Linked DNA regions of Homo sapiens. The protein of the gene in region 2 purifies or fractionates together with the protein of the main gene of each other region. This does not show direct contact. Each region holds a gene or a part of one and is shown on either strand. Other genes may lie near its edges. The genes, in order: ZNF100, FGF3 and CEBPZ.

Region 1 (3,750 bases), on a different chromosome or scaffold from region 2:
GTTGTTTGTCTTTTGGAATACTTTTTGGTAACAAAATTTTCACTTTTTTTTCCAATATTTTTCTTTATATTTATTTCACTATTTTTCTGCCCCCCTTAGATGATCCAGGGAGCAGAAATTATTTTTGTGTTTCCCCTCAATACCAGCATCTGATTGGCTGACCAGCAACGTGTCTCCAAGAAATGAAAGCTGGGTTGGGTGAAGACAATTTTAATGTCTCAAGGGGTTACCTTTTCAAAATAAGACTGCACCAGAAGACTCCTCTCAGCCCCAGGGCATCCACTTGCTCCCTTGAGAGGACACATTCCATACCTCGGGTCATCCTACGGGAGAAAATAAACCAGAAGCTGACATTCACTAGGCACTTTAGCTGACAGAACCATGGCGGATATCTCGGTTTATCCACAGATAGTACTGAAACCCAGGACCAGGAAAAAACTAAAGGGTGGCTGAGGACACATCACCCCATAGATTTTTCCAAATCAAAACCTTGACCCAAAAACATTCTGATAAATCTCTGTGCCTAGAGAAGGTAAAAGGAAAAGAGACACAGAGATTTTCTACAATACAGTGTCAGAGGATTAGTCTTTGTTTCCTTTTCGTGGGAAATATTTACAAGCGGATAACACATCTTCTTAAAAGCGCCATTTAATGCTTTGTCAAAAACAATTAATTAAAATATGGTATAAACAAGTACACTAAAGGACAAATAGGTGATAATGTGAATTAGGAAGGAAAAGTTGACATTTGGGAACGCCAGAAGAAATTGGAAATTTAGTATCTTACTGCAAGCCAGAGTGAGGCTGGAGAAATGGGGGACGGGGGTTAGACTTAACAACCTGCTTGGGACACAGGTGAAAAATGCAGCAGAAAATCAGTTCCCCGTGGAGTGTGAAAATAATTAAGAGACAGGCAATTCCACTGAGGTGTCTCTAGTCCCTGGGTTCCTACTTAAAAAAAAAAAAAATCTAACTCAGGTGCATTTTTTTTTTAATTACTACATTCAGAGAAAATGTAGGCTTAAACAACTATAAACTGTTAATTAACCTCTGATTACACAACCAGGAAATCTTCACCTGTATTGTACAAATCAAGAAACTACGTTACTGTAACCAATTACTAAATTTAGTTTTCTTCATCATACATTTTATAAATGACTTTCCTTCAAGCCTCTCCCATAGACAACAAACTACAAACCATAGCTGGATACTCTATGATTCTTGAATCACTGTTTGATTAAATTCTTTAGGCCAGGCGCGGTGGCTCACGCCTGTAATCCCAGCACTTTAGGAGGCCAAGGCGGGCGGATCACGAGGTCAGGAGTTCAAGACCAGCCTGGCCAACGAGGTGAAACCCCGTCCCAACTAAAAATACAAAAAAATAAGGCCGGCCCAGTGACAGGCGCCTGTAATCCCAGTTACTCGGGAGGCTGAGCCAGGAGAATCTCCAGAACCCGGGAGGCGGAGGTTGCAGTGAGGGGAGATCGCGCCACTAAACCCTAGCCTGGGCGACAGAGCGACTCCGTCTCAAACAAACAAAAAAATCGTTAATATTTGTGCAGTGACTCCCATACATTTTTAATAGGAGAAAAGAGGAACTGGGAAAGCCACGGACCAAAGATCTTCCCATTCATGAACCCGCACCCCGAGTCAGGATTTTCCCCTGACGACCCTCCCGTGGTCCCTGCACAATCTGAGAGAGACGCGGCGCTGCGGGTGCAGAGCTGCCAAGAGAGGGCTCCAGGCCAAGGCACAGTCACTACGCAGGGAAGAGAAAGGACGCCTGGGGTCCTGGCTGTCAGCGCAGCCGCCATCTTATGGCCGAAGGGGACGGAGGCCGAGCTGGGCAAGGCGCAGATTGTGAAGCTGACTGCGGAGAGGCCTGAGTCCCGCCACAGCTACTTCCCACCAGTTCCAACCAGCCCTTTCGCCGTCTCTCGGGATGTCGGACCGGGCACTCTCACCATTTCTAGGCTTCTAGGGGGTCCTGGCGTCTTAGCTGTGGATCTCCCAATATCTGCAGGTCAGAGGGCCACACAGGCTAGGCCCCTAGGAGCAGAAGACACAGAGAAGTGAGAGCAAAACCTGGAGCTCCGGCTACAGCGAGAGACAAAGACCCCGCCAAACCCGGAAGCCGTCCAGTCCGCTCCAGCTGCATGCCTGATTGGACGGTTTCCAGCCCAGCGTCCCTGGTTGGATAATGCTTAAATCCCCGCCCTGTCAGGCTTTGAGTGACAGAAGATGTGATCAGATGCGGGTTCAATGAAGAAAGAGTGACAGCCTAGACTGCCCCCTCTTCTGACAGGGCTTCCTCCCTCAGCTGAGCTAGGCCCATCCCAGAGAGTATTTGCCTTTAAATTTGTGTATAAGGTCATATGTATAAATAAATAATACATTATATAGCTATACACAAGTGAAAAGAATATAACAATTATTTTAAAATTTCAGCTTTTATGACCTTCCTGGCTTCTGGCCCTTTGAGCAGGCAGCCTGAGATTTTAGAAAAGAGAAAATCATCTAAAATGAATGTCAGCCACATGTGGATTTGAAATTTTCTAGTAGCCAAACTTTAAAAAGAAACAAGTTGAACTGATTGTTAACAATGTAATTCACCCATTATATTCAAAATATTATCATTTTAATGTGTGAGAAATATGTAATTATTGATAAAATATATAAATATTTGGAACTAAATCTTTGAAGCTGACTTTGTATTTTACCTTTCTAGCATATCGCATTTCAGACCAGGCACATTGTGGGAACCCAGTAGCCACACATGGACAATAGCTGTCACATTGAAGTGCAGCTCTGATGTCAGCGGTGTGAAGGGCCTGAACATCTCTTTCCTGCGAGAGTGAAAGAAGAGACTCTCCCTACAAACATCTCTCTTTGGTTCCTAGGGTGGACCAGATAGTTCCCATAGAAAGAGCTGAGGGCAGTAGGAATAAAATAGCCACAGGTAATAAACAACTGCTGGCCACCTGTTGCCCACCTTTCTTTTAGAGACCAGATAGTGAACAAAGGATGATGGGGCCACAGGAGAAAAAACAACTATGTCTTCAGTTCTGTCCACACACTTGAACTCCAGTATTTAGAGATGGAGAAAATAGATTAAAAACAAACATAGTTTGCTATATGGTCTTGGCCCTAACAATCAGGCTGTGTTTATCTGTTTTCTCCTGTGGTGTGGGGGACTATGTGAGTCTAAGCACCAATCACACGCATACATGTCTACAGGTATTTCTGCATTACCCAAAATTCTCTTACAAAACATCGAACTTTAAATCAGGGGAAGAAATCAGTACCTAGAGGGTGTCCACTGTTAGAAGCCAACTCTTAGTCAACCTGTCACTGAATCCTGGCAACTTATCTGTACTGGGTGCATGTATTAGTTAGCTATTGAGGCATAACAAATCATCCAAAACTTATTAGTTTATAATTGAAATGGTTGGCCATTTAGGCCGAGCTGAGTGGGGCCATTCTTCTGGTCTCAGCTGAGCTCCTTCAGACATGTATCATCACCTGCTTTTTGACTAGACAGCTGTGCATCTGGGGGTGAGCTTCTGCTCCTGGGTCTGTCAACAGGGGCACCTTGCTTCTCCTCTTCATGGTATCTTATTTTCCAGCTGGCTAACATGGGCATTATTCATGGAGATGGCAGCATTCTAAAAGAAAAAGAGAAGCAGTCAATACCATTTGAGCCTGGGCCCCAAACTGGCCCACTGTCATGTTCACAGGTTTCTGTTGACCT
Region 2 (3,625 bases):
ACACATTGGAAAGTGTTGTCACAGCGAGTCCCAACTGCAGTAGCTCTGGAGTCTATGGCCCTGGCCCCTGAGCCAACACCTTCTGCCCTGGTCATCTTGGCCACCCCAGGTGCCCTACCACGTGTCAGCAATTGATCTACACTGCCCCCAATCTCCCACCTTGGGAGAGCCTGAGCCCCCTGCCACCTGAGGCTCACAGGCACCTGTCCTTCAGTGACCCACCCCTCAAGTGGCCCCCCAAAGAGAAAGCCTATTTCCTGGCCTCTCTGGCCCTGAGAGGACTCACCTGCTGCAGGATCGAGGGACCTGGGAGAAGCTTGGGTCCTGCCCTGAGCTTCTCACAGTCTGCCATGGGAGCCAGACACTAACATGGTGTACCCAGTGTGTGGGGTGGGGAAGTCGGCCCTGAGCCCACCCGCTCATTCCCAGATAGTCGCTGAGCCCCAGGCTATGTGGGGGTCAGGCACAGATCAGACACTGTTCTATCCCCTGTAATGTAGGGCCTGGCACCACCCCTGGGCCTCAGTTTCCCCATCTATAAACATGGAGACCGGTCTTGGATAGTAACATCCAGACTGTGGCCCAGGGGGCACTGGGCCTCCAAGAGGGCTGGAGAGCAGGGGGGCTTGGGGTTATGGGGAGAGGCAGCCCCTACCACCAGGTCAAGCCTTCCACCCTTCCCTGCTCTGGGCTTTCATGTCGCTGAAAAACAGGATGGGGTGCTTGAAGCATCTTGTTCCCTGAGGTCCTGCGAGGTCAGATGCTGCTCGGTCCAGTCTGGGAGCCTCTGGAGGCCATTTCCACTCTCTCTCTCTGCCACGGGACACCACACCCCAGATGGGGACAGACCATGAGGGCCTCCGACTCCTCCCTGCGGCCAGTCCCCAGGAGGAAAGAGAGATCCTGCTGTCTGCCTTGCACCTGCTGCTTCCACCTCCCACCACCCTTTCTGGTTTGGAGGGAGCAGCTCCTGTCAGTCATCCCCTGAGGGAGGTGGCCCTAGGCATTACCACTTGCCTGTAGCTGGGACTGAAGCCTAGTGGGTCTGCATAAGGCATACCCACCTCTTCCCTACGCCACAGACTAAGAAGACCCCATGAGGCAGCCCTTGAGGGAAACTCCCACGGCCAAGTCTTGGGGATGTTGGTGTAAGCTCCTTCAGTTCAGAGCTTCACTGTGCCTTTGAGAGGGCAGGGTCCCTTCTGCCCTTCCCCCACTGCACCCTGGGCCTGACAAGGGTCCCATTAATCTCTGATGACAAAGAGGTGTCCTCTCTGTCCTGCTTGTGGTGGGACACCCCAGCTTCTGCTCTCATCCTAAGAACAGCAGTATCTGTGGCACTGATTGATCATGTGCCTCATGCCAGGCCCCAGCCCCTGCTCTGTGTTGTAACCTCTTCAACCTGCAAGGCGAGATCCTCCAGCTTAAGAGAGTGTTGCTCAGGGGTCAATGACCCCAGCTGGGGCCCCTGAGCGCAGCGTTTAATGGAGAGTCTGGGCTCATCAAACCTGGCTGTGTCCCCTTCCCTTCCTGCTTTTTGTGTTCTTTCTTCTTTTTTCTTTTCTGCAATTTCTTTTTTTTTCTTTTCTTTTTTTTTTTTTTTTTGAGTCAGAGTTTTGCTCTTGTCGCCCAGACTGGAGTGCAGTGGCACAATCTCTGCTCACTGCAACCTCTGCCTCCCGGGTTCAAGTGATTCTCCTGCCTAAGCCTCCCAAGTAGCTGGGATTGTGGGCGCACGCCACCACACCCGGCTAATTTTTTTGTATTTTTAGTAGAGACGGGGTTTTGCCATGTTGCCCAGGCTGGTCTCGAACTCCTGACCTCAGGTGATTCACCTGCCTCGGCCTCCCAAACTGCTGGGATTACAGGCATGAGCCACCGTGCCCAGCCTCTGCAATTTCTTTAAAAGAGATCTGGGTGTTGTCATCTTCCTTTGTCCAAATGCCCAGTCCTTGCTGACCTCCACACTGCCAGCAGACTGCCAGGGCACCTGGGTTGGCCGGCCTGGTCTCTGCTCCACAGACAACCCTACACATCCCTTTGCTGTGTCAGCGCCCTCAGATGGGGGACAGAGGCTGGTGGAACCCAGAGAGCAGGAGCTGGGAGTTGTCTGGCACAGCTTTGAGTGAAGGTGACCTTTAGGCAGAAGGCCAAGTTCACCAGGCACACAGGGGAGGAAGGACATGCTGGGCAGAGGGCAGGGCCTAGGCAAAGGTGTGACTGGCTGAGAGTGCGCTGGGGTTTGGCACTGGACCGAACAGCCTCACAGGAGGGGAGGGAGGCATCAGGCAACCCTGGGCCCTGACGCTGCCACAGTCTCCCCGGGGCACTGACCATGATATCTCATCCCCGCAGGAGCACTACAGCGCCGAGTGCGAGTTTGTGGAGCGGATCCACGAGCTGGGCTATAATACGTATGCCTCCCGGCTGTACCGGACGGTGTCTAGTACGCCTGGGGCCCGCCGGCAGCCCAGCGCCGAGAGACTGTGGTACGTGTCTGTGAACGGCAAGGGCCGGCCCCGCAGGGGCTTCAAGACCCGCCGCACACAGAAGTCCTCCCTGTTCCTGCCCCGCGTGCTGGACCACAGGGACCACGAGATGGTGCGGCAGCTACAGAGTGGGCTGCCCAGACCCCCTGGTAAGGGGGTCCAGCCCCGACGGCGGCGGCAGAAGCAGAGCCCGGATAACCTGGAGCCCTCTCACGTTCAGGCTTCGAGACTGGGCTCCCAGCTGGAGGCCAGTGCGCACTAGCTGGGCCTGGTGGCCACCGCCAGAGCTCCTGGCGACATCTTGGCGTGGCAGCCTCTTGACTCTGACTCTCCTCCTTGAGCCCTTGCCCCTGCGTCCCGCGTCTGGGTTCTCAGCTATTTCCAGAGCCAGCTCAAATCAGGGTCCAGTGGGAACTGAAGAGGGCCCAAGTCGGAGCTCGGAGGGGGCTGCCTGCAATGCAGGGCATTTGTGGGTCTGTGTGGCAGGAAGCCGGCAGGGAAGGGCCTGAGTGCCAGCCCTGGCAGACTGAGGAGCCTCCCAGGAGCAGCGGGGCAGTGTGGGGCTTTGTGTCATCACAACATTAAAGTATTTTATTCTACTCTGTCGTTTGGTAGACCGTGATGCAGGCTGAGGAGCGCTTGCCGCCTTTACTGGAACGTGCTTGCTTCCAGCACAGCAGAATCCGCGCTGGCATCAGCCTGCGTCAGCTGCTGCTTTAAGAGGAAGACGGCATTCCCAGAAATCGGGCTAAAGGTGCATTTCAGTTCCCTGGTTTTAGAAAGTTACGTTTTTTTGGATGGTTGGAAACAAGCAAAGGCATGTTTGTGCATGTGTGTGCATCGTGTGTGTGTGCGTGGAGAGAAGGATCGTGTATTTCTGAAAGCGTGAGTGTGCATGTGGGTATGTGTGATCTTGTGTTAGTGGTACCTGTGTGAGGACATGTATGTGTGTGTGTGTTTCTGGGTGTGTCTGAATGTGTGATGTGTGTGTGTCTGTGTGTGTGTGTGTGTGTGTGTGTGTGTGTGTGTGTGTGGAGAGAGAGAGAGAGAGTTTACTTTCTTTGAAAACTCTAAAAAGCCTCTCCCTCTGGAAGCTGTGTGCTTCTCCAGGGACCCTTTAGAGCAACTGTGTCAGG
Region 3 (3,650 bases), on a different chromosome or scaffold from region 2:
GAAATAATTCTCACTTGGAACAGGTCTGACATTATCTTCATGTTTTTAGAAACTCAGGATTAAAAAAATTTAAAACAAAGATTTTTCAGAACAAACTAGGAACTGACTACCTTCCAACACACAAGCTCTTCATCCTTCTAAAGGATTATTCTCAGTTTAGTCTTCAGGGGAACTGATGGATTCTTCTCAAACTTTTCTGGCAGCTATCAGACTTCTCTTTTGTACTTCACAAACTGAAATTTGTAGATGAATTAATTTGACTGTGAGTCCCAAAGCAAGCTGAAGAAATGGGTCTGGCACCACATTTCTCGAACCTCAAGGCTGGTGTTTTCTTCACAGCCTCAAATGAAGGGGCTGCATTTCTAAGATTTTTTTTTGACTCTAACATTCTATTAATAGACTTTTAATTTAGTTTGGTGTGTGTATAGAAAACCACTTAACGTTTCTATCTTGAACAGAAAGTTTTCTATCCCTAAAACATTACTTTAAGAAACTGTGGGCCAGGTACAGTGGCTCACGCCTGTAATCCCAGCACTTTGGGAGGCTGAGGCAGGCAGATCACCTGAGGTCAGGAGTTTGAGACCAGCCTGGCGAACATGGTGAAACTCCACCTCTACTAAAAATACAAAAATTAGCCAGGTGTGGTGGCACATGCCTGTAATCCCAGCTACTTGGGAGGTTGAGGCAGGAGAATCACTTGAACCTGGGAGGCGGAGGTTGCAGTGAGCCGAGATCACGCCTCTGCATTCCAGCCTGGGCAACAGAGTGAGACTCTGTCTAAATAAATAAATAAGTAAATAAAATGGTAGAATGCTATTTTCTATGAAAATCAAAGAGAAACAAACTCCCTAGAGAATAAAGATGAAAAAAACTCACCTTTCAAATTATCAAAGTGCACCCAGGAAGCAACCTCTGGTTTTTTGGTTTCTACATCAGTTTCAGGAACTGTTTCCTCTGTCTCAAGTTTTTTCACTATCTCTGTTTCTTTGTCTGCATCAGTGAATTTTTCCATGTCTTCATCATCATTTGCATCAATAAAATTTTCTTCATCATCAGACTCCTAACAAAAGTATAGTTTCATAAATCTACATAAATCAACTGGAAGTTGCAATAAAGTCTGTGCTCCATTATGTGATGCAGAGTTTTACTTATTGCAACTCTGGTGAAACGTGAAAGTTCTAATAAAGTAAAATGATGGCTATCAATGGTATTTAAACAAGAGAGGAGATTACATCCTTATTTCTAAACATAACACAGTTAAGTTTTGAGCTAAGAACCCCTGAGCCTTAAGGACTCTAATACTTGAAAACAATTAGCCCTCAAGTAAATTTCTGACTTGTAAATAACCCTATGAGGTAGGTACTATTATTTCCATTTCATTGTTAAGGAAGAAGACTTAAGAGGTCTACTAAGTTTTATAGTCTTCCAAATCTCATATAATGGTAGCTTCTAGTATAGTACAGTTTATTGCAAGTAGAAGAGTTGAGCAACATGCCCACCTAGTAAACTGTACAGCTGGTACTAAAATCTAGGTTTGTCCTATTCCAGAACTCACACTCATATGCTCCAGAGAACTAGGTTACTGTCATTTGAAGCAAAGAAAAACAAAACAAAAACCAATATATTTCAGCACCCACTCAATTTAAAAAGCAGTTGTAAAATATACCGGATGATCATCTAGTTGGCTTCTTAAACCTGGTTTTGCTTTAAGGATCTCAGACACAAGATATAAAGCTCCACATATAAATGGTGGCATCTGTTGACAAGTAACTTGAAGTAACCTCTTCACAAAAGCCTTCACCCGGCGCAACACAATGTCAGCTTTCAGAGATTTGTAGACAAGGTTAAGAAACATAGCTTGCTTGGAACACGTCATCAACCCTGGATCCAACATCTTCCTGCAAAACAAAACCAAGGTCAAATATTTATGTATAAAACCATCTCCACAACCAATGGTCACATATTAGAAATAGCTACTAACCTCATCTTAGTTAGGGATAACTTTGCTGCTTATTTTAGAACAAGAGACCCTGCCCTAAGAGGTAAGATGGAAGTCAATGACCAGAAAAGGATGATGATGGCACCAGGAAAAACCAACAGCAACAGACACAGGAATAGGCATTTTTGAGTGTGTGGTTTTCTTGTCTTTTCCAAGTGTTTTTCTGTTTTCTATATCAACAGGGCACAGCCCTAACAGTATTTACAGAACCCCACCAGAAAAGCTAATCTAAAACCAGATAGTGAAAACTGACCCATGAAAGCAGAACATTAGAAGATTTGGGTTTTTGTCCTTGTATAACTACCTACTAGCAGGGGGACCAGAGGCCGCCTCTTCATGATTTTAGTGAAGACCATCGATGAACAGCAGAAAATTAAATTCTAAGGACTTCAGAGAATCTCTAGTCCAATGTACTAGCTGTGTAACATTCCTCTCATACACGCTATTTTCACTGCCCAGAGTGCTTCTCTCCAACTCTCTGCATGTCCACAGTATCCAAAATTGGTTCTTCTATTAGTCTCTCAGTCCCATGTTTGTGTTCTTCATAGTTTCACAAACTTGATTTTCCTGCCTTTCCCTCTTCTCTAAAGGTCCAATGAAATAGGGATTATGCCTGTTATTCACTGTTGTAACCCCAGTGCCTGGCAGTTAATACCTTTACATGACAGTTTTCCAAATACTTGAACCTATTTAGCTATTATGTGCTTGTCTCTCCCTAATGTCTGTCTTCTGTAGGCTGCTCTACTTTGATCTCATGATACTTTAAAAATTCTCTATCCTAGGTGCTGAATCCTACACATGTCCCCAACCGGTCTAGACCTGCAGATATTAGGACACCCAGAATTAACACAATCCTCCAGATTAGCTCTATTAACACCTGGAATCATTACTTCCTTTGTTTTAAGCATTTCCATTAATTTTTTCCTACTAACACTAGAAATGAAAAATACTTAAGCTTGTGAAGCACTTTCCTATTGCTCTGAATACTCTGGGAAATATCACCCTTTTGGTAATATTCTGGGATATTCTGGATTATTCAATTTTCTCTCTTTACATTTAAATTTTCCCTCTTTACATTTAAATTTTCCAACATTTCCATCCATTTTGCAATTTATTATTAGGCATAAATTACATCTCACATCAACAGAAACATCTGAGAAGAATTTAGAGACATGTCTCTATCATTTCATGAAATATTTTCCTAATGTTTTGATAAATATTTTTGTAAACCAAATCATGTCATTTCTTTTATCCCTCAATTAACTAGGGGTTTTCTTAATGTGAAGGATTCCTAATAAAACCAAGAGCAAACAAACACTTTAAGAAGGCCTAAAGGCCTGTTAAGAAACTCCATCTGTGAGCGCTTTTGGCAAATAGTAATTTCAAAAACTTAAAAATCCACCCTTCCTCAGAGATGTTAGACTATGATGTTAAATAGAGACAGAAAAATGTTTTCTAATAGATTTCAAACACTTTCTAAAAATCAAAAATTCCTATGACCATCAAAAGTTCAAAATAATGAAACCACCCCCCTTCAAAACAAACAAACAAACAAACAAACAAACAAACTAACAAAAACAAAACTCAAGATCCCGAAACCTCTACATTTTCAGCCTTGGAACTCTTTTCAAATTAACAGTGTTAAGTTATC

The links.
Region 1: the proteins of FGF3 (region 2) and ZNF100 purify together in Homo sapiens (affinity purification with mass spectrometry; 2 studies listed by BioGRID and IntAct, with this or other methods). This does not show direct contact.
Region 3: the proteins of FGF3 (region 2) and CEBPZ purify together in Homo sapiens (affinity purification with mass spectrometry; 2 studies listed by BioGRID and IntAct, with this or other methods). This does not show direct contact.

Annotation. Positions count from the first base shown.
Region 1 is NC_000019.10:21,765,464-21,769,213, forward strand, and holds the start of ZNF100 (zinc finger protein 100), read right to left. Parts: upstream 2,117-3,750; 5' UTR 1,967-2,116; coding exon 1,964-1,966; intron 324-1,963; coding exon 231-323; intron 1-230.
Region 2 is NC_000011.10:69,809,431-69,813,055, reverse strand, and holds the end of FGF3 (fibroblast growth factor 3 precursor), read left to right. Parts: intron 1-2,355; coding exon 2,356-2,751; 3' UTR 2,752-3,088; downstream 3,089-3,625. UniProt on the Homo sapiens protein: Plays an important role in the regulation of embryonic development, cell proliferation, and cell differentiation. Required for normal ear development.
Region 3 is NC_000002.12:37,221,504-37,225,153, forward strand, and holds part of CEBPZ (CCAAT/enhancer-binding protein zeta), read right to left. Parts: intron 1,899-3,650; coding exon 1,667-1,898; intron 1,061-1,666; coding exon 877-1,060; intron 1-876. UniProt on the Homo sapiens protein: Stimulates transcription from the HSP70 promoter.